Homo sapiens: one gene and its partners. The protein of the gene in region 2 interacts with the protein of the main gene of each other region in a pairwise test. Each region holds a gene or a part of one and is shown on either strand. Other genes may lie near its edges.

Evidence for each region. The genes of interacting proteins can lie anywhere in the genome.
Region 1: the proteins of SRSF11 (region 2) and LNX2 interact in a two-hybrid assay, tested with the Homo sapiens proteins (3 studies listed by BioGRID and IntAct).
Region 3: the proteins of SRSF11 (region 2) and PAX6 interact in binary tests that used the Homo sapiens proteins (3 or more experiments, as listed by UniProt).

The regions. Positions count from the first base shown.
Region 1 is NC_000013.11:27,561,530-27,568,543, forward strand, and holds part of LNX2 (ligand of Numb protein X 2), read right to left. Parts: intron 6,311-7,014; coding exon 6,111-6,310; intron 1,253-6,110; coding exon 884-1,252; intron 1-883.
Region 2 is NC_000001.11:70,245,378-70,252,441, forward strand, and holds part of SRSF11 (serine/arginine-rich splicing factor 11), read left to right. Parts: intron 1-1,440; coding exon 1,441-1,530; intron 1,531-1,739; coding exon of another isoform or gene 1,740-1,755; exon of another isoform or gene 1,756-1,772; intron 1,773-4,553; coding exon of another isoform or gene 4,554-4,574; coding exon 4,575-4,670; intron 4,671-4,987; coding exon 4,988-5,126; intron 5,127-5,230; coding exon 5,231-5,428; 3' UTR 5,429-7,064. UniProt on the Homo sapiens protein: May function in pre-mRNA splicing.
Region 3 is NC_000011.10:31,794,323-31,801,336, forward strand, and holds part of PAX6 (paired box protein Pax-6), read right to left. Parts: exon of another isoform or gene 6,908-7,014; intron 6,535-6,907; coding exon 6,369-6,534; intron 6,340-6,368; exon of another isoform or gene 6,217-6,339; intron 467-6,216; coding exon 308-466; intron 1-307. UniProt on the Homo sapiens protein: Transcription factor with important functions in the development of the eye, nose, central nervous system and pancreas. Required for the differentiation of pancreatic islet alpha cells.

The DNA.
Region 1 (7,014 bases), on a different chromosome or scaffold from region 2:
AATTAGACCAATATCAGAATCTCCTCTCAATACAATAAAGAGAGTTGAGACTTGAATTTTCTTATAGTCTTAAATTTTCATTGTTATTTGATTCTGTGTTGTAAACACATTCTTCAATGACTATCGGCCTACCCTACTTCCTGATCCTCAATTACATAATTCTTGGTTTCCTTTACAGTGTTTTGTTTTGCTAACTTTAAGAAAAACATCTTTTTGTTGCACCCTTATCACTGTAGAAGTTGCTCATATCATTAAATGCTATGGCATGTTGCAGAATGTATAGATCTCCTCTGGATGACTTTCCAACTTATCCATCTTCATGCTTTTATGAAAAACATGTTCTTTCTCTAATAATGACTATCCTTACTTATGTCACAAAGATGCTATGAGGACAAATTTTATCATGTATTTTAAACACTGTGAATTCCTTAGAAACAACAACAAAGCACTATAGAGATAAGAGTTATTCTTCCTCTATTTATATAGATCCTGACAGGGAGTTAAGAGACCAGGTAAGTCAGATCCTTGGTAATCACAGCTCTTTTGAGCCTCCCTTTCCTCACTTCTAAAAGGTGGACATATCATCTGCTACATCTGGCTTAATAGTAGAACCCAGGACCCAAATGAGAAATGAATGTGAAACAGTAGAGCCTACGCTCTGTAAATAACCATCCCCAAAATTCACAGGGATATAGTTTTTAGAAAAGACTATCTCCAATGAAGTTATACTAGTGTGGATTTTAAAGAATTCAGGTAGCCACACCCGATTTTCTAATGAAATATAAAATGTCCCCTGAATTCTGATGTTATTGGCCAGTGAAAACAAATACTACTATATGATCATTTCGGCCAAGCCTTTGGAATGAAGGCCAAGAGGGTTTACCTGAATAATCTGGGCAGCAAGCTCCGGAGTTCCATACTTCAGGTCGTGCCCATTGATGGCCAGCACTCGGTCATTGCTGCTTAGCCTGCCGTCCTGGGCAGCCAACCCCCCTTCCAACAGGTCAAGAATAAAAACCCCTGGCTCATCTGTCCTTCGCACCAATTTAATGCCAAGCTGTTCACCAGAGTCCCGTTTATGAAGAGCCACTTGGAAAATCTCTTCTCGTGGAGAGTTACTATCAGAATGGTTGTGTGCTCGGTTGCCAAAGCGCCTCTCTCGAAGCACAGTAAGATGCAGTGTGTTGCAGGGCTGGGAAAGGACAGCTCGGGCATAGTTATGGGACACATTGCTGATATTGTAGTTGTTGACCTAGAAAAAAAGAATTGTGACCGAAGTGTGACAACCTTTTATTTTTCCAATTTGTAGGAATGTTTATGTGACATTTCCACAGGAAACTAAGTATTGTGAGAGTGCTAAGTATGGTGAGAATGCTATACAATCATTATTTACAAAGAAAACCACATTAAAGACATTTAAAAACAGAGTTTCTAATATTAACTTACAGTGACTAGCATCAAGGAGAGAATAGTAGCTAGGATCACGGGCTTTAATGACGGTCTTGAATTAGAGTCCTAGGTACTACCATTTACTAACTGATAACTTAGGCAAATTATAGAACTTGTCTGAATGAGTCTCCTCATCTGTAAAATGTGTTTACTTCATGGGATCAGTATGAGAATGAACAGATTAACATGGGGCAAGTGCTAATGAAATAAATACTAATTCTAGTGGAACAGAAATTTAAGTTTTACTAGATTACAAATTTGCTTCTTCCAAATTAAATACACTTAAGCTAGAGAAAATAAATTGTTATTTTAAGGAAAGTAGCACATTTCAGGTATACAAACTTATTTTAGATAAGTGACTTTTACCTGAAAGAAAACCAGGTTAATTGTAATTTCACTCTAATTCTTCAGCACAGAAATATTAGGTTGGTGCAAAAGTAATTACGGTTTTTACCATTAAAAGTAAAATATAATGTATATCTAATGCATTATTCAATACTCATATAACATTTATGTATTCACCTTTATAATCTCAAAAAAAGTATAGTGACTGATCCTTGGGTATGTAACAGCACTTAGAAAATACACCTAACTTCAATTATTTCTTTAGTTACAAGAGATGAGCATGATTCTTAGCATTTATCACAATTAGAGTTCTTCTCTGAATCGGTCTGAGATGAAACCAACATCCTCTGACCATCTGTTATATGACAGGCTCTGAGTTAGGTGTTTATGATCACCTAAAATTCTTACATCTTTTTCACACAAATCCACATTAGGCAAGACTTTCCTCTTCCTATTGACTTAGGATTGATAGTTGTAAATACTATTTTGAATTTTGTTGATTTTGACCTATTAACACCTTTCAGAATTCAGTCACCAAATGCACAGATGTCACACACAAACTTGCTTTCTCCCAAGTCTGCAACATCTATTAATTTGGTAGTCATCCAAGTCCTTGGTAAAAGTATTGAATAATACAGGGTCAAGAATGGAACTTCTGAAGTTCTATTATATTTAGAAAGCAGCTTCTAAAAATCCACGCAGATATAGATTCATTAGTCAAACCACCATTTCCAACTATTTAGCTACAAAGCTACCTACCTGTAGGTTCACATTTTTCTGTCTTATATTCAGACATATCACACATATCACAAATGACTTTACAAAACGTCTGGCTAAAATCCAGCCATGTGTAAACATGCAGCCTCATAACATCTTTGTGAAGCAGGCTGGGGAATATTCTACAACTGGAAAAAGATTTTTCCTCCAGGAATGCATGGTTGCCAGTGAAATTCAGAGAAAGCAGAAACCAAATAAAATATTGTTTCTAGATTTTGTAAAAATAACATCAGCATAGCAAACTATCTCATTTTTGAGCTAAATGTATTTTTTTATCAATCAACAGCTGTAATTATTTTCCTTCAGAACTGAAAATGCCATTATTGATGACTTCATTAAACTGAAAATACTTATTCTTAATAATGTTCTAAGTTATATTACTTTTATTAATGATATTGAGGTAATTTATAATAGCAGTATTTTTTTTTCTTCAAAACTGCTCAAAGAGGCTGCATATGAAACTCTAAGAGTAGCAAAAAGCTCTAACAGCATATGGTTCTCCTTTTCAAAGAGGCTATTTAATAACATTTGTATATGTAAATAAATATATATAAATGTGGGAAAACCACCAAAGCCACACACTGCTTATGTATATGGTCTGCAAAAATGAAAATGCAAGCTAGCTCTCTGGTCTGCAAATCAACCATCTTACTGCCTCTTCGAGATTTTCAAATTGGCTCACTGTGTTATATTTATTTAGCTTATACAAAGTTGGAGGTAACCAGATAGTAAAAAATACCAATAGGCCTCTTTCCAAGTGTTTACTCTTGAATAACCATAAATAGTCCATATGTGGGAAAGGGGGGTGGCTTTACTTGGCTCCAACACACCAGTTAAAAGCCAACCAGAAGTCAGGGCCTATAATAGGAGAGACCCTTTGTGAATTCATTAATCAGATTATGTGCTCAGACTTTTCTTATCAATTTGAATCATTAAACTAGATGTAAGATTGCCATTATTGGAGTTATTAGTATACAGGTTTCCATAAACAGTAATAATGCAGTGGAATTTCTACAATGTAGACTTTATAACTGAATTAATTCCCAAAAATATGGTTGATAATTTCAGATAATTACAATCTTTTGAGGTCTAAAGATTCAGTAGTGTTAATGAACCATTCTCTAAAATAGAAACAAGCCCACTGATGAAATGTATTAGTAAAAAAACTTAAACAAATCTGTTATATTCAAAGAAATATAAATAAAAACATTTGTAACAATACTGGGCTAGTAGCAAAAAATAAGTGTACACTTACATTTCAGCTAAAAAGCCCAGAAGTGGGAGAGTCAAAGAACACTCAGTGGGCTGCAGAAAAGGACTATCTGCCCTTCCTGGTCCTGACCACCAAAGTGTCAAGATGTCTGGGAGGATGAACCTGGGAAATGAGCTGTAAGAGTCGCTCTCTGCAAAATCAAGTCAGGAGCTAGGATGTAAATAATACAAGGGGTCCTACAAGTTGTGCCAGCCTGTGCAGCTAAAGTACTAATATCATAAAATGCAGCTAGGATAACTAAATAGCTAGCTATGACAGGATCAGAAATCTGATTTTATATGAGCTGGATTAGTTATGTTCCTGTATTCGTCTATTACATCTAAGTATTTGGTAAAAAAAACACTGTTTGAAAGCTCAGTCTGTCTCAGCCATGCCTAGGGGTAATGAAGGAAAGGTTTTAGGCTTGGTGTTAATTATTTTCAGGAATAATACACCATGAAAAGCAGCATACAAGCGGGAGTGGAAATCAAACCCAAGAATCCCTAGTAGGGTCAATCCTGGCTGCCTTTGTAGACTCCCATAGCCCCAAGTCTAGAGATTTCTTTTCAACAACTAAAAATCCTAACCAAGTTTTTCTTTTAATAAAGGAGATGGCTATTCCCAACAGCATCTTATATTCAAATTCACTCTTTTATTGACTCAGCAAATATTTTCTGAGCACTTACTACAAGCTATGAGAAATCTGTATCATAATCTGTACCATTAGGGTGGTTGCAATTACCTTAGATCATGCCTACATACGTAAAATGTTCAAACAATTCTCTGTAACTCATCACGTGCCAAGTGATGAAGAGAAAAGTGATGAATGCCAATAATAACTAATGTAGGAGGAATCAGTATGGGGGAGAATGGCTGAACAAAAGCTTTAAGGATGAAGGTGAACAAACTGGCTCATGAGATGAGGACAGGCTGCAATGTGGGAATAAGGTGTTTGCAGGGAAGGAAGAAGACTGCTATGTCTGGCTCTTCCACTAGATTGTATATTCCACGAGGACAGGTCAGTATTTTGCTCTGAAATGTACCACCAGCAACTAGTATAGTGCCTAGAATGTTGTGAGAAATGAATGAGCTGGTGTGCCTGAAATGAAGAATTGAGATTAACAAGACAGGTTGTAGAAGAGACCGTGGAGGACCCTGACTATTAGATTAATCAGTCTGGACTTGACCTCCTAGTTGAACCTTTGCAAGGCAAGCAGGGTTACTGATGTATTAACCTGGCAGTGATTGTTTCAGATTTAAGGGAGGAGAGTTGGGAGGCAGAAGTATATGATGGGGTATTCTACTAAATTAGATATGAAGAAGAGAAGTCCTAGACTCAAGAAGTGGCAGGAAAATGGAAGTAGGGGGTAGATATCAACAGGTCATGGTGAAGGACCGAACCACAAATCCAAGGAGAGAGAGGAGTCCCTGCGCTTGGGTTGACAGGAGACATTTTTTCTTGTTCATGAATATTTCCTCTCTCTCCTAGAAGTTATCCGTTTTTAAGCTTCAATTATTATCACCTTTGTATGATGAAAATGGTCCAGGCCGGTATTAACATCAACTCCGGGATTGTAGAACTCTTACCATCCTCCTCCCCTCATCTCAACTTGCCCTCTAATAAAATATCTTGTCCCATGCTAGTTATTTCTGGAGAATACCTGTTTCTTCTTAAAGATCATCTTCTGAAAGGGAAAACAGTAAGGGGAGCGAAGGGGATTATTGAAAATGCAGAGTTAGAGTGTTTGCTGAGGAGAGTGCATTAGGGAGTTGATAGGAGATGACTGCAAGATTTCTGAACTCTATCTTATAATCTGTGGTATAAATTATGAGTGCTGCATGGTTCCTTCTTTTCTAGATTTTAGTAGTCTGTATAGAAAAGGATAAATCCAACAATGAAGGTAATGAATGGGAAAACTGGGTATAAAATAATACCAATGAGATGATAATTTCAACATGGATGAAGGTGACCCTTGAACAGTCATTCAAGAAGTCCAAGCAGGAAGAGGCTAGTCAGCCCAAGGAAGAGTCTAGCTAGCTCAGCAAGCCTGAGATCATGTGCCAAGCCACATCGCATGCAGGAATGAAAATTAAGATAGGAAGAAAAAATACTCTGTGTATATGGGAAAATACCACAAATTACACATAAATTCTGATGTTTTGCATATAGAAACAGTAAAACTAATCTATATATAATTTAGGTTCCAAAACAGCACAATTTTCTAAGGTTTAAGTGTTAAGAATGGAACAAAAAGGCACAAGTTAACAGAATAATTAAAACTGATACCTGAAGAATCTGGTCTCCAGCAAGAAGTCTCCCGTCTCTGGCAATGACCCCATCCCGATAGACCTCCTGGATGACAATGTTAATCAAAGGTGTTTCGTTGCCACCCACAATGCTGATTCCTAACTGAATGTAAGGATTGGACCGATGAATTTCAATCGTGGTGATTTCTCCTTCTGGTAAACTAAGTGGCTGTTGTGTGGCTGCCAAGTTAAAAATGAGACAGACAAAAACAGATGTTAAAAAAATAAACAAACCCAACAATTTATATTCTGATTATCTTCAGGTAAGTATGTCACATTAATACATGATTAACAGCTAAGCAGTATCACTGGATAAGAAACAAAATGACAAAATATCTGTTGTTAAGATTATCTAAAAATTTTCTCTACTAAAACTGATCAGTAAATAATAAATAGCTACTATGTATCAGATCACTAGGGACGACACAGTGATCTGATTAAGAAATATGAAAAGAAAGTCATTCTGTCCTCATTGATGAGAGAAAATTTGGACCACGAAACAACTGTACATAATGAGAGGCAGTACAAAGGAAACACTAGCTCTGTGGCATAGAAACAGCACAGGTGTTGAGAGAGTAGCCACATCAAGCTCGTAAGAAGAGGTGGGTCTTGAACGGAGACGTAGGAAATGAAGAAGGCGCATAGTTGCGGCAAGGAAAATTCAAATTTGTAGTAGAGCTTGGAAAAAGAAAATCATTTTTAAAAGGAAATATCAAGGGCCCACTACCATGATATGCCCAAGATCCATGACTACGGGCCTTCTGTTAACTTCCTAGTGGGTAACAGAGCAGTGGCTGGTACCAGAGGTGTATAACGGTGAGATGCATGGTCTTGGAGTCAAATACAAACCCAGTCATTTACTGGTTGTATAAACTTGACCAATT
Region 2 (7,064 bases):
AAACTCAACTGATGAGAACAGAAGAGTGGGGGTAGCTTTACTATCATTGTTAAACCTGTAATAATGGGGCTTTTAGTCCTTATGTGCTGCAGAGTGAATCAAACAAGGTAGATTAATAGAACAGTTATACAAAGGAATTAAGCATTTCTTTAAGGACTTTCTGATTACTAGGAGAAGAGTGATGGATTTAATTACAGGGGAGGAACTGTTAAATGATGATTGCTACTTGCTGATATTGGAAGAGGTTTGAGAATGACTCGAGTATTAAATTCTGAAAGATTTGACTAGACTCAACGGGAGGCATGCTTTCAGGTGGAGAATGGTGTTTCTTGAAATAACAATATTTTGATGTAGTTGGACTAGAAAATGAGGTCAGAAAAATATAATGAGACCGATCGTGGAAGGCTTTGTTGTTCACACTATGCACTTGATCCAGGAGGCAACTGGAATGAGTTGAAAATGGTGAACAGGGAATTAATATTTTCAGGTTTGTACTTTAAAAGATTTCTGACAGAGTACAGAATCAGTTTATGGAAGGCATGACTGGGACCTACTAGGGGACTGTTCTAGTAATCTAGGAGTTAGATGATAAAGATTCAAATGAAGAGGGAACCAATGATAAAGATTGAATGAAGAGGGAACCGAGGATGACCAGAGAAGGGAAAAAAATGAAATTGAGAATGCAGAATGGAAAGATTAGCTTAGAACAGTAAGAGAGGGATACTTTGATTCTTAAAATTAGAGAATAGTTAAAGAGGGGGGTTGTTATGAGACTTCTCATTCAACAAATATATATCGTTTATCTACTCTTTGCTTAGAGTCTTGGGGAGAATGATGATCTTGGGGAAAAAATATTGTGAGGAGTAAAAATTTATAGGAATCTGTAAAAAAAAAAAATTGAGTTACGGCTGTAGTCAAAATCTGTTGATATTTTCTAATAAGCCCTGAATAGTTCATAATAGCCGCAGAAAAAGAAGCTTGCTTGATCCATGATAGAGGTTGACATGGGATGTGTGTCTTGGAAGAATATTCATGATATTGATGGATTTTGGTAGTGCTCTATGGGTTTTGGCCTGATAGGAGAGGTGGGTTGGGAAAGTGGTAATCAGCTGAGAGAAAAAGGAGTCTTGAGGAGCCTAGAGATAGTTAACTTATTGGTGTTTACCAAGTATATTTCAAGCCAACATCCTAGTTATTTTCTCACCCATAGTCTACTTTAGTCTACTTGGGAGAAAACCTAGGATAATAGGATTTTAAAAGAAGTTATTGTACTTCAAATATGCCACATAAAGTATTATTTTTAAAACAGTTTCTGTCAGAACAACATTTATGCTTTTAAGGATGGGATTAGATCTGATTATATTTTTGTGTTTGTAGTGCTATATAAATTGGCATCAGCTGAGTCTTCTAATGCATTCATAAATTGTGTTCATTTGTTAGAGACAAAAAGAAAGAAGACAAAGAAAAGAAACGTTCTAAAACACCACCAAAAAGTTACAGCACAGCCAGACGTTCTAGAAGTGCAAGCAGGTAAGGTGGCATTGTGAATTCTTGGCAATTATTTTTTTAACTTTGCTTCTAACAGTATCAGTACGCTGTCAGTATGAAGTCTTTTCCAGAACATAAGTATTTCAGTGTTGAAAAAAGTTACATTTTGCTGTTATTTAAAGTTTTTAAAAGGCAATTTGTGAAGAATAATGTAGTTTATTTTTCTTTTTACTTAATATTTTATGGTCTAGAGTATATTTGAAGTAACATGGAATTCAAGAGAGGTGAGTTTTTCTCTTTATAGTTTAAGTTTTAATGGCTAAACCATACTGAATTGTTCCATTAAGTAAGCTTATTATAGTAAGCTATATTTATCATCTGCATGTTAGTACTTGAGAATTTTTCTATCCCTTTTAATGACTGTTGAATTAATGGGAAGCAATGCAGGTTCTGGTTTGTGTCATTCTTAGACTAATTCTATCTTTAAGCTGTCAGTGAAAATTGAAATGTTGCAGACCTTACTGCACAAAAAGCACATTTTCATACTTAATTTGGGATTTATATGATAGTAAGGGCTGGACTTCATTCCATTTTTCAGATCTCATTCACATGTTTTGCTGCAGTGCTTGTTTTATTCATCAACATTACTTAAATTCACTAGGAGAAGGTTCATGCCATATAAAAAAAAATAACTGAAATGTATAAAAGACCTAAATGTAAGAGCCAAAACTATAAAACCTTTAGAAAGAAACAAAAGTGAATCTTTAAGACCATGAGCTTGGTGGTTTCCTAGATATGACTTCAAAAGCATAAGCAACAGAAGAAAAGAAAATTTTGGAATTCACCAAAAGTTAAAACATTTGTATTTCAAAGGATACTATCAAGAAAGTAAAAACCTAGAGTGCTAGTTAGAAAATTCTTTATATATTCTCTATTAAGAACTCTTAGAACTCAGCAATAGACAGGCAACCCAATTTAAAAATGGCAAAGAATCTGTAGCCATTACTCCAAAGGAGATATGCAAATATCTAGTAAGTACATAAAATCTGTTCAACATCATTAGTCACCAAGGAAATACAAACCAGACCACAGTGAGATATGTCACAGTCACTAGGATGGTTATAAATCAAAAAGACAGATGATAGCTGAGCCTGACAGATGATAGTAAGTGTTGATTAGGATGTGGAGAAATTAGAACCCTGTGCATTGCTAGTATGAATATAAACTGGTACAGGTGTTTTAGAAAACAGTCTGGCATTTCCTAAAAATGTTAAACATAGAGGTTTTTGACCCACCAGTTGTACCCCTGGGGGAAAATGAAAACATTTTCACAGAAAAACTTTTATGTGAATGTTTGTGGCATTATTTCATAATAGCCAAAAAGTTAACTATCCATTAACAAATGGATAAACAGAATGGTATATCTATACAATTGAATATTTTTCAGTGATAAATAAGGTTGATACATGCTACAGTATGGATGAAACTTGCAAACATCCATGAAAGGCCGTGTATTGCGTGATTCCTTTTATATGAAATGCCCAGAATAGGCAAATCTATAAAGATACCAAGTAGATTACTGATTGCTGGGGAGATAGGGAGGATTAGAGTGATAACTAAAGGGTAGGGAGTTTTTGGGGTGGTGAAAATTTTCTTAAAAACTAAATTTTTAAGCATGAAAATGAAACCAAATGTAAGTACAGAAGGAAATGCTGAATCAGGCCTGAGGGATAGGTGGCAAAGAGATAGAAAAGATGGAAGGTACTACATATATTTTCTTACCTTAAAAACTGTTGAGGATTTTTTTTTTTACCTGTTGCTTTATATAATGTACTTGTAAGTGCCTTCTCATGCTGTATTATTGGATCACTCTAAATTAAGGCATCTTCTGTGAGTTATTAAATACCCACTGTGTTTGTAGTTGTGCTACAGTCTGTTGAAGGACACGGAAATGTAATATAAAATACTTCTTCCGTCTAGAGAATTTGGAGTTTCAGTTACATAAGACAGTAGCAAAAAGTATAAGGTGCACAGTCGTGACAATGTTTGATAAGTGAATGCTCAGTTATGTGTAACGTTTCCAGGACAAGGGTCACAGAGGGCTGTGTAAGTAGAAAAAAAGCTTCATTTGGAAATTAGACAACTAAGTACAGGGTTTTTTAAGTCTGATAACTTTTGAGAATCAGGAACAGAATTTTTTTTTTTAAGTTACAGTAAAAAGGAGGGGAAGGCTGTATATCAGCTGTATATCTTCAAAGTAATTGGTGAAAGCAGGGTTTTGGGGGACTGCAGGAGGGCGATTTTGCTAGAGTATAAGGTTTCTACCTTTCCACTAACTAGTTCTCTGAATTTCATCTAATGATTTAAAGGTGAATGTGGGGATATTTTATTAGTAACTACCTTCTATATCACATTATTGAATTATTCTGTACTTACTCTGAACACTGAATGTTTGAACCAAAAACTAACTTCTTCAGTAATAGTTTACTTCACACGTCACCCCTCTCGCATTAGTTTTGTTAAATCAGTTTTTTCTCAAGCTTAGTATTTCTAACATTTTGTCATCAATTAAAAGAATTACTAGAAATTAGGAGTTTTCTTGAGGGTAGTAAAGGGAAAGATTCATGGTTTGCAGATGATTATATTACTCATTTAATTGTTTAGCTTATACCAGTATTGTGAAACAATCTTTCATTTTTCTGTTTTTTTGAGACAGGGTCTCTCTCTGTTGCCCAGGCTGGAGTGCAGTGGCCCTATCACAACTCACTCCAGCTTCAACCTCCGCAGGCTCAAGTGATCTTCCTGCCTCTGCCTCCTGAGTAGCTGGGACTACAGGCATGCACCACCACACCTGGCTAATTTTTTTGTATTTTTTGTAGAGACAGAGTTTCACCATGTTGCCCAGGCTGGTCTGGAACTCCTGGGCTCAAGCAATCCCCTCACCTCAGCCTGCCAAAGTGCTGGGATTATAGGCATGAGCCACTACATCTGGCCACATCTTTCATTGTTAGAATCATCTATGATGTGTCTGCATTTTTAAGATCACACTGTATTTTAAAACCTAGTTTGCACATTTGTGATTCTAGAGAGAGACGACGACGAAGAAGCAGGAGTGGCACAAGATCTCCTAAAAAGCCTCGGTCTCCTAAAAGAAAATTGTCCCGCTCACCATCCCCTAGGAGGTAAGAATGTTAATCATTTAAATGTATTTTTTATATTTTTCAGAGGTTTTTCATTTTAAAACTGTCCTGTAGTTTTTCTTTTCAGCAGTTACAGTTCTTAAGAATGTTTTAATGTATTCTCCTTCTGACTTGTGACTTAAACACCATTAAGGACTGAACATTTTAGTCCTATAAACAAGTTAGTTTTGTAGCCTGTGTTACTTCTCCAAGGTTTTGAAGTTGGATCTTTGCTGTACTACTTATATCCTGTGAAATTGAGTCAGGCTCATCATCTAAACAAGTTAAACCTGTTGCTGTACATTTTACTGTCATTCTAGACATAAAAAGGAGAAGAAGAAAGATAAAGACAAAGAAAGAAGTAGGGATGAAAGAGAACGATCAACAAGCAAGAAGAAGAAGAGTAAAGATAAGGAAAAGGACCGGGAAAGAAAATCAGAGAGTGATAAAGATGTAAAAGTATGTTTACAAATTGATTTATTTTTATATTTGGGGTGATGTTGGTACTTTCAGAAGTTATTTTTCTTTGGAGAAGTTTACTTTTATTATTCTCCTTGGCAAAGCAGGTTACACGGGATTATGATGAAGAGGAACAGGGGTATGACAGTGAGAAAGAGAAAAAAGAAGAGAAGAAACCAATAGAAACAGGTTCCCCTAAAACAAAGGAATGTTCTGTGGAAAAGGGAACTGGTGATTCACTAAGAGAATCCAAAGTGAATGGGGATGATCATCATGAAGAAGACATGGATATGAGTGACTGAATATTGCCTCTGAGGGAGTCCAACTGTATACCTGCATCAGTGTCATTCCTTTGTGTGATTTCTTAATGCTGTATTTGTTCATCTCAAACCTAGATGTATACAGCTCTGAGTTATAAATGGTTATAAAGCTCCTGTTACTCATATTAGTTATTTACATCAAAAAGCTTTTAGAAAATGGTACGAGGTAACCAATTCTTGTCATGGTGAAATCTGATTGAGTAACCAAGCAGTTTTACTATTCTGGTGCTGCTTCATAACAAAAATGAAAAGCTGCATGCATCTACAGCAGGCATGGATTGTTTATGTCGTATGATATCCTTTATTAAGTAAGTTCACTTATAGTATTTCTATAATTTGATTCATTGCCGTAATAGAGCCATGTAGGAAATGCACTGATTGCATGTTATTGTGGCAAGAATATCCTAAATGTCATTAAAATCCTCCAACATGATGGATCTACTTATGGTCTTGTTTGTTGACATGACAAATTAACATTCTTATAGTTACATCTGGAAATGAGCATTTGAAATAGATAATCCTTTAAGCCTTGTGGCAAAATTTTTGTGGCTTTTGTTTAACTTTGAAAGGTTATTATGCACTAACCTTTTTTGGTGGCTAATTAGGGTTTAAATACAGAAACAAGATTTCAAATAAAACTGTCTTTGGCAGTGAGTAAATAGCATATTTTGAAGTAGAGTTGTATACTTTTTCATAAGATGTTTGGGAATTTTTTTCCTGAAGTAATAATTTATTCCACATCTACATCAGTGAAAGCTATCTACCTATCCTGAGTCTATCTTAAAGGAAAAAAAGAAAAAAACCTTATCTCTTGCCCTTATTTTGAATTTTCCACTCTTTCATTAATTTGTTTTAAGCTCCGTGTTGGAAAAAAGGGGTAGTGCATTTTAAATTGACCTTCATACGCTTTTAAAATAAGACAAATCTACTTGATAATGTACCTTTATTTGATCTCAAGTTGTATAAAACCAATAAATTTGTGTTACTGCAGTAGTAATCTTATGCACACGGTGATTTCATGTTATATATGCAAAGTAGGCAACTGTTTTCTTAGTTACAGAAGTTTCAAGCTTCACTTTTGTGCAGTAGAAACAAAAGTAGGCTACAGTCTGTGCCATGTTGATGTACAGTTTCTGAAATTGTTTTACAAGACTTTGATAATAAAACCCTTAAACTTATGTTCATGTTCCTGTAAAACCGTATTTGTATTTATTTACGCTACTGAATGTATGACATTTACCTCATTCATTTTACAAATTCTTTCCCTTTCTGTCCACATATTTCAGTATAGTAAAAAGAGGAAGTCTATCACTGTAGTGATAATTGCCATCAAAATTGTCAAAAATGATTTAATTTCTATCCAAAATAGTCCTTTTCTTAGCTTAGTATCATTTTATTGCTTATTTTTTGTGTGGGAATGGGGTTGGATAAAGCAATGAACTTTAGTATAAACAAATCCCACCTATATCTAGCAAATTTATATTTTCGGTGAAATACAGATATTTGCCTTTCTGGAGTAGTATAGAAGCTGTCAATATGTATCTACTGTACAGTACTAAATAGTATTCATTTATGAAATGAGTAGTGTTTGGGTGGCTGGGGTTAAGGGAAAATGAGA
Region 3 (7,014 bases), on a different chromosome or scaffold from region 2:
GTGGCCTGAAATAGCCAAATCATCATTTTTCCTTATAAGTCAGACATTTAGTCTTTGAATTACTGGTAGATGAAAAGAAGAAACACACACACACACACCACACACACACACACACACACACACACACACACACACACACACACACACACACACACACTGAAAAGATGCCCAGAGAAATAAAAAGACAGAAAAAAGGAAATCTTTTCATTCTTCTATGCAAAGGGCCCTGGCTAAATTTAGCTCTTTGTACTGAAGATGTGGCATTTACTTTGATTTACTGCTTCTCTACTTTGAAAAACTCTATCACCTTTCTCCAGGGCCTCAATTTGCTCTTGGGTAAAGGATGTTCTATTTCTTTGCAGCTTCCGCTTCAGCTGAAGTCGCATTTGAGCCTCATCTGAATCTTCTCCGTTGGAACTGATGGAGTTGGTATTCTCTCCCCCTCCTTCCTGTTGCTGGCAGCCATCTGGAACAAAAAGAATAGGATGGTAAGAGAAATTTGGATTAACTTGGAGCCTCCAAAAGGGGCCTGGTGTAGTCTTAAACTCCAAGAGCATTATATCCCGACAGCCTCACCAAAACATTCCCAAGGTAACTGTCAGCCTTCTTTTAAAAAAATACATTTGCGATGTTAGTTACCTGACCACCATTTTCTTTGTTTTTATCAAGATGAGACTTTATAATACACACACTAAGTGGCATTTCTTGAATGAAAAAATAAGCACTGAAGTTTCCAATTAAAATGATCTTTTATAAGTAACCCCAACTCCCCAAATGCCTCACTCCACTCCCTACAGAATCTCTTTACCTATGGCTGTGTTGGGAAAATAGAAGAGTGATGTTCAAGATTTCAGTTGATCTATAATCAGTAATTCCTATCTAATCAATTAGATGTTGATAGGTTTGTAGAAAATGCTATTAAGAAACCAAACCAAGCTTGTAATCTTTTTTAAAAAATATTTATCTAGTTTTTATTTGAATTCTGCACAGTCAATTTCATTTAAAGGTTGTGAATTTAGAAGTGCTCGCATTGTTCTGCAGTTTTATTCAACTATTGTATGAGTGCGCTTCGCCTTGACACCTATTACGAGCACAGCTGTAATTATATCATCACCAAGAACAGGCTATAATTGCTGAAAATGGAATTTTATATTTAGATAAAAGGACTGTCCATTCTTTGTAATGTGTTGCACCAGAGAAAAGTAAGATTTCTTTTAAATTTTTAACGTGTAATTTTAAAAAAGAAATAGTAGAGAGTTCACTAACTAGCTAAATATTCTATGCTGCAGCTGAATCTTTGGCATATCATTTAAGTGGTACATTTTTAATTAGGGCATTTCCACCACTTTGAATGTAACTTCTATCATTATACAGGGGGAAAGTTTTATGGTTTTCCCTTGCTGCCTGGAGGGCAAGATGTGCACTTGGGCTAGCTGGCTCCCGGCTTGCACCTTGCCTGTAAGGCCACAGTGAAGGGAAGCAGGATTGCCTAAACTCTGACTGGGCCTCCAGGGCCACTACAGGCTGGGTCCTGGGTCTGGGGTCCTGAAATGACCCCCAAGGGATACCAGCATGGGCTACCCACCTCCCTATCCTCAAAACTTGGCCAGAGGCGGGGTGGAGGGGCCCCTAGGAGCGCCTTGGTGGGAATCGACTTGGCCAGGAATATTATTTATAACCAGGAGACAATAGGCTGCGCCTTCAAAGAGTTCAGGGAATTGTGACAGGATCTAGTGGGATCTTTTCAGGAACTTTGAAATGTTTTAAAACCCCAACTTTCTCCCCCATTTAAACAGGCGGATTCATCGGCACTGGCCACCATATGGGCCCTTGGAGATCTATTGAGATGACCACCAACACTTGAATAGCGAGGGGCTGCTTTTCAGCGCTGCACAATGCCCCGCGAGTAAGGGAAACTATTAAACTCCTGGGGCAGGAGCGTTGGCAAACTTTCGTGGGCAGAATTTTGAGGCTACAATGAGCGCGGACAACAAAAGGATTCTCTTGAGGCGTGCAGCGGGCCACATTGTGTTACAAGAAGCCCAGTCAACAGACTTTTCAGTGAAGTGTGTTAACCCCTCTGCTCTGCTATCATTAATCACTGTCCGAAGAGCGGGCGCCTCCGTGCTATTTAGGGCGCTTGGCTGGGGGGATGGAGGGTGGATGGGGGGGCCAGGGCCCAGCATGGGGGGAGGCAGGGAGAGTGGACGGGGACCAGGGCTGGGTTCCTACATAGAGGAGATGGAGGGGAGGCAGGATGGAAACCAGCGGTGGGGGTGGAAGCAAGGGGGAAGGATTGGGGGGCCTGGGTTAGGGGAAAGACAGAGGGCGATGGAGGGAAAAAGAGGGCGATGGAGGGGAAAAGAAGGCTCAAAAAACATAGAGGCTAGAAAGGTATTTTTAAAAAAGGACAGAAAAGAATGCTGAGAGGAAAAAGAGACACGAGGGCCGAACAAGAGTGGGAGAGAGAGGAAAAGGAGGATGAGGGCCAGAGAATATTAGTAACTGAGCCCCATCTGGACTCTGGGTCTTTGCACTCCATCAGAAAGGTGGGGGTCGAGGAGGGCTACTTAGCTGAGGGAGACGCGCTCCGCTCACGTGTGCGGGCACAAGCGTCTGTGCTAATTTACTGCCCCAAGTTTCCGGGGACTTTTCAAAGCGTTTTTCAAGGGAAGAAATGAAGCGACCACCCCCACCCCTCGCTTTATTTTCGGGTTTGGTGAAGAAGGAAGACTGGAAATAGCTCCTTTTGGCCAACTAGAAAGGCCGGAGGGTTATTGCTTTTGGAAAACAGACAAAAATCTGTGCACATCTGGTATGGGGTGGGGGACACTGAGGAGAACACAATGCCCATCTCCCCATGGCCACTCATGCCCATGCCTTCCTAGGGGCCCCATCTCGGTCCCTTTTCTGGCACATTCGATCTCGCCAATTAAACAAAGTTGCCCGAATCTGCCTCCGAAGAACCCCGCCGATAGCATGCTCTGCTCTCATTTGCCTCTTTGACATTTTCTTAATTTTAAAACATGGAGATTCACATTCTTATCCATGTTCTGTCTCACACAAACATACACACGGGTTTACACAGGCAGCACGCGATCGCCGCCAGGCCCTGTGCTGCCTCCAGAACTGACACTTAAGAGAGAAAAGTCAGCAGGGACAGTAGAGCTCAATTTTAAATCTGGAAAAAAAAAAAAAAAAAAAAAAGATGGGAAGCGGGGATTGGAATTCCACAGCAAAAAGAAACCTGTCGCTGCAGGATCCCTTCTCTACCCCGCGGGGAGAGCGGCACGGAGACAGTTCATTACTTTAGAAGTGGCAACTGTTTGCAGCCAGGCGGTGACCTAGCGGCTGCTCTTACATAAAATGGGTACATTTCCCCCCACTTTAGTGGATTTGCCTTCCACTCTTAAAGCTTTTAACAAAATAAAACTAGAAGTTGGATCTCGACTCCCCCACCCCCACGATAAACCTAAGTGGTGGACAATTAAGATATCTTCTTCAAAAGGCGCCCCCTCGGAGCCGCGCAAAGCAGGGGCCTTCAGTGGGTGCCGTTCACCTTCCAGCCTAATCCGTGAGAAAGCGAGTGAAAGCGCCTCCCATTATCCCAGCCCCAGGACCATCTGACGATGGGAATAGGATTTGTTTCCTGGAAGGAGGTGAGAGAGAGAGAGAGAGAGAGAGACAGAGAGAGAGTTGCTGGGAAATAAAATCATTCCTTAGTTTCTTAGTGTCTTAATCAGTGAGGCGGAAAACAAGCAAGAAAAGATAGCAACCCGGTTGCGGCACCTTTTCAGCTCTGGAGCGCGGATCAAAACATTGTAGCATCTGTTGAAAGAGAGGCTGACTAAATCCTATAGAGGGCTTGGGTATTATGGGGGGTGGGGGTGGGGTGAGGGGAGGAGATAAGAAAAAGTGTCTCCGTGATCCCTAAAACCACCAAATCGCCGGAGAATTGGGGCTGGATAGAGTTGTCTCTTGTTGTTGTCAGCCCACGTCGTCGCGATTTTATTCACCGCCGCATGGCGTTGATCAGATGGAAACCATATTTGTCTCCCTCTGAGACCTAACCCCCGCCTTATGCTTTTGGAGTATGGACTCTTTAAAACCCAAGAAAGGCTTCCTGGGCTGGGAAAGGGGGCTAGGGAGGGAGGGGGACCCTCTTAGCACCAAAAAGTCTGAGGATTCCCCGGGAACGTGAAGCGAAGCTCACCACCGGTGCCCGCTACCCCCACGCCGGCAACTCTGTGCTTCGTTTGGCCCACGTGTCCTCCCCACGCAACTAGGGGCGACGGTCCTGTGCCTGAGGTGACAATCACCCCCCAAAAACCTCACTTGCGGGTGGGGGGGTGGTGATTGCCAGTTGACCCAGAATTTTCTAGCAACTAGGCGCGTTAAAGTGAAAAGCCCCTGGACTAGCTCCACCTCCGGCCCCAACCATCACAGGCGGACCCTAGCTGATTTGACTCTCACTTCCCGCCCTCAGACTGCCGGCGACGAAAATCCGCCCGAATCGGGCGCCACCTCTGGTGGAAGCTGCTGTCCTCGGCTTCTGCCCAACTCCAAGAAGCGGAAGGGGGGTGTATCCTGCGCCCCAAGCTCATGGGAGCCCACGCACCGGGGAGAGCCCGGAGTGGAGGCTCTGGGCTCAGCCCTCCCAGGCCTAGGCCACCGTGCCCTGAGTCCCTCCCCAAGACTTCTCGGACTAAGTGGGCCAGACTCTTGTCAGGGGAGGGATCACCAGGACCTCAGATTGCTGGGGGCGGAGGGGTGGACGCTCGTGAGTGCGAAGTTCGGGTGTCACTTGGGTGTGTCCAGTGTCTACAAGTGGGAATCCTACGGTTTCAAAAGTCAGGCAGGGATGGGGTTGCCTACACTCGGTGGGGTCAATCGCTAGTCTCACCAGAGGCGGGAGCGGGCCTGGGGGCCCTCTGAGCTCGCGGAGGCGGCGGGTTCGGGGCCCGTGCGGGCGGGGTCGCCCAGGGGAGCCCGGGCCCCGCGCGTCAGGAGGCCTCCGCCGGCCGAGCGGCCGCGCTGGGAAACAAGAAGCGAGCGCTTTGCTCCCTATCTTCCCAGTGTCCGTCCTATATTGTTTTCTGCTCTTAAAACTGACATGTCTAATTGGCAATTGGTGCCGAATCGTGTCCAGAGGTCTCTTGTGGAACATTTCTACAGCTGTCTCCTTCAACTAGACGCTTATTCATGTCGCCTTAATGAGAAACAAAACGTTCTCTAATGAGCAATTACAGAGCGACAGGATTGTTCCCATAACAAATTCTTGCGAGTGACAGAAGCATCCTTTGTACCAGATATTTCGCATACTGTTACCGATTTTCCCTTCCCTCGCCCGACTCCATGGAGGCGCCGGGCATCCGGAGCCGGTCCGAGAGCTCACGGATGCGCCGGCAGCCTCCTCGCAGTCCCGCGCGCCGCCCCTGGCCCCGAGCCCCTCGGCTCCGTTGTGCTCCTGGGAGTGAGACGCCACGTCCCATTATCCCGCATATTATCTCCTTGTCACGAGGACAACAAATACCGATTAATCTTCGGAGTAAACTGTTTCCTATTCTTGACCAAGCTACCTCGGGGTGTGGAGGGGAGCGGAGGGGAGCCAACTGACCCTCCCCTCCGCCCCACCCCCCCCATCCCCCGCTCTTCTTCCTCCAGCCCTTCTCACAGAACCTGGGGTGTTTCAGGTCCCATCTCTCCTCCCAGACCAGAGCGGCTCCCGGCATCCCGCCGTCCTGCTCACAGTATCTTCACCTCACCACTTCCACATAGTCGCCACCCACAGAGAGTGAGAAAGTGGGACCCAGAGGGGCGAACGGGGGAGGGGCAAGGATAGTGGGGTGGTTTTAGTTGGGAGACCACCACTTCCAATGCCCCATCCCCGACTCGCCCTGCATCTCCCTGCTCACCTTTTCATGTGCACCCTACTCATAGTCACATAATTTGTCAATTACAGCAAAAAGCAACAGGATACAATTATGTTAACCTCGCAGTCTGTCAGTGCGTTATCTTGTCACACTTCTACAAGGGGGCTCTCCCTGCATTCTAATGTCAAATTTGAATAGTGCACCACGCAGCTCGTTCTTATGCACACAGTGCTGCCCACAAACACACACACGCACCCACCAGCCACCTTCATACCGCTCCTGACATACACAACCCTCACATTCCCAGGCCAACAAAATGGTTCAACAAACACCACCTACATACAATGTGGTCGATGTGTCCCAGGCCTTCAAATGCAGTCTCACCCATGACATTCCCCAAGCATGGAAGCCCTGAGAGGAAATGGTTGGGAGAGTAGGGGACAGGCAAAGGGATGCACATATGGAGAGCTGCGTGGATGGCTGCTTGGGTTTTACCTTGCGTAGGTTGCCCTGGCACCGAAGTCCCCGGATACCAACCAGGGCGGGTGCCCCAGCTTCCGGTCTGCCCGTTCAACATCCTTAGTTTATCATACATGCCGTCTGCGCCCATCTGTTGCTTTTCGCTAGCCAGGTTGCGAAGAACTCTGTTTATTGATGACACCTGCAAATCAAACCAAAATCAAACCAAATGGTAGTGTCTCCTGAAGACACAGTCACCCATCTCAGCTCACCCACAACCTTAAAAAGCAACTCTCAACCCGTTAAAAAGCTCCCAGCCACCCCGGGACAGTGGGTGGATTTGCAGATACACCGTGGAAAAAATGATAGCTATCACTTTGGGCATGGAAATTTAGTTGGATAGAGAATTGGGCGGAGGGGGTCCTTCACCATTGCTTGGTGTCTCTGGTGACCTAACTCACACGGTTGCTTTGCTTTGTTAAAAGACTGCCCGAAAATAAAAACTATTTAGACTTGTTGTAAAGCTTTCTTTCATTATATTGTTTAATATTAGGATGGAAATGGATGTGTGACACCTGAAGGAAAGTTCTGGCAGGTGGATTAGGACGAAGTTACAATCTGGTTCTCATTTTCCTTCTTCATTCAAGTGCCTTTCCCTGGTGCCTCCGCCCTCTGTTTTGCA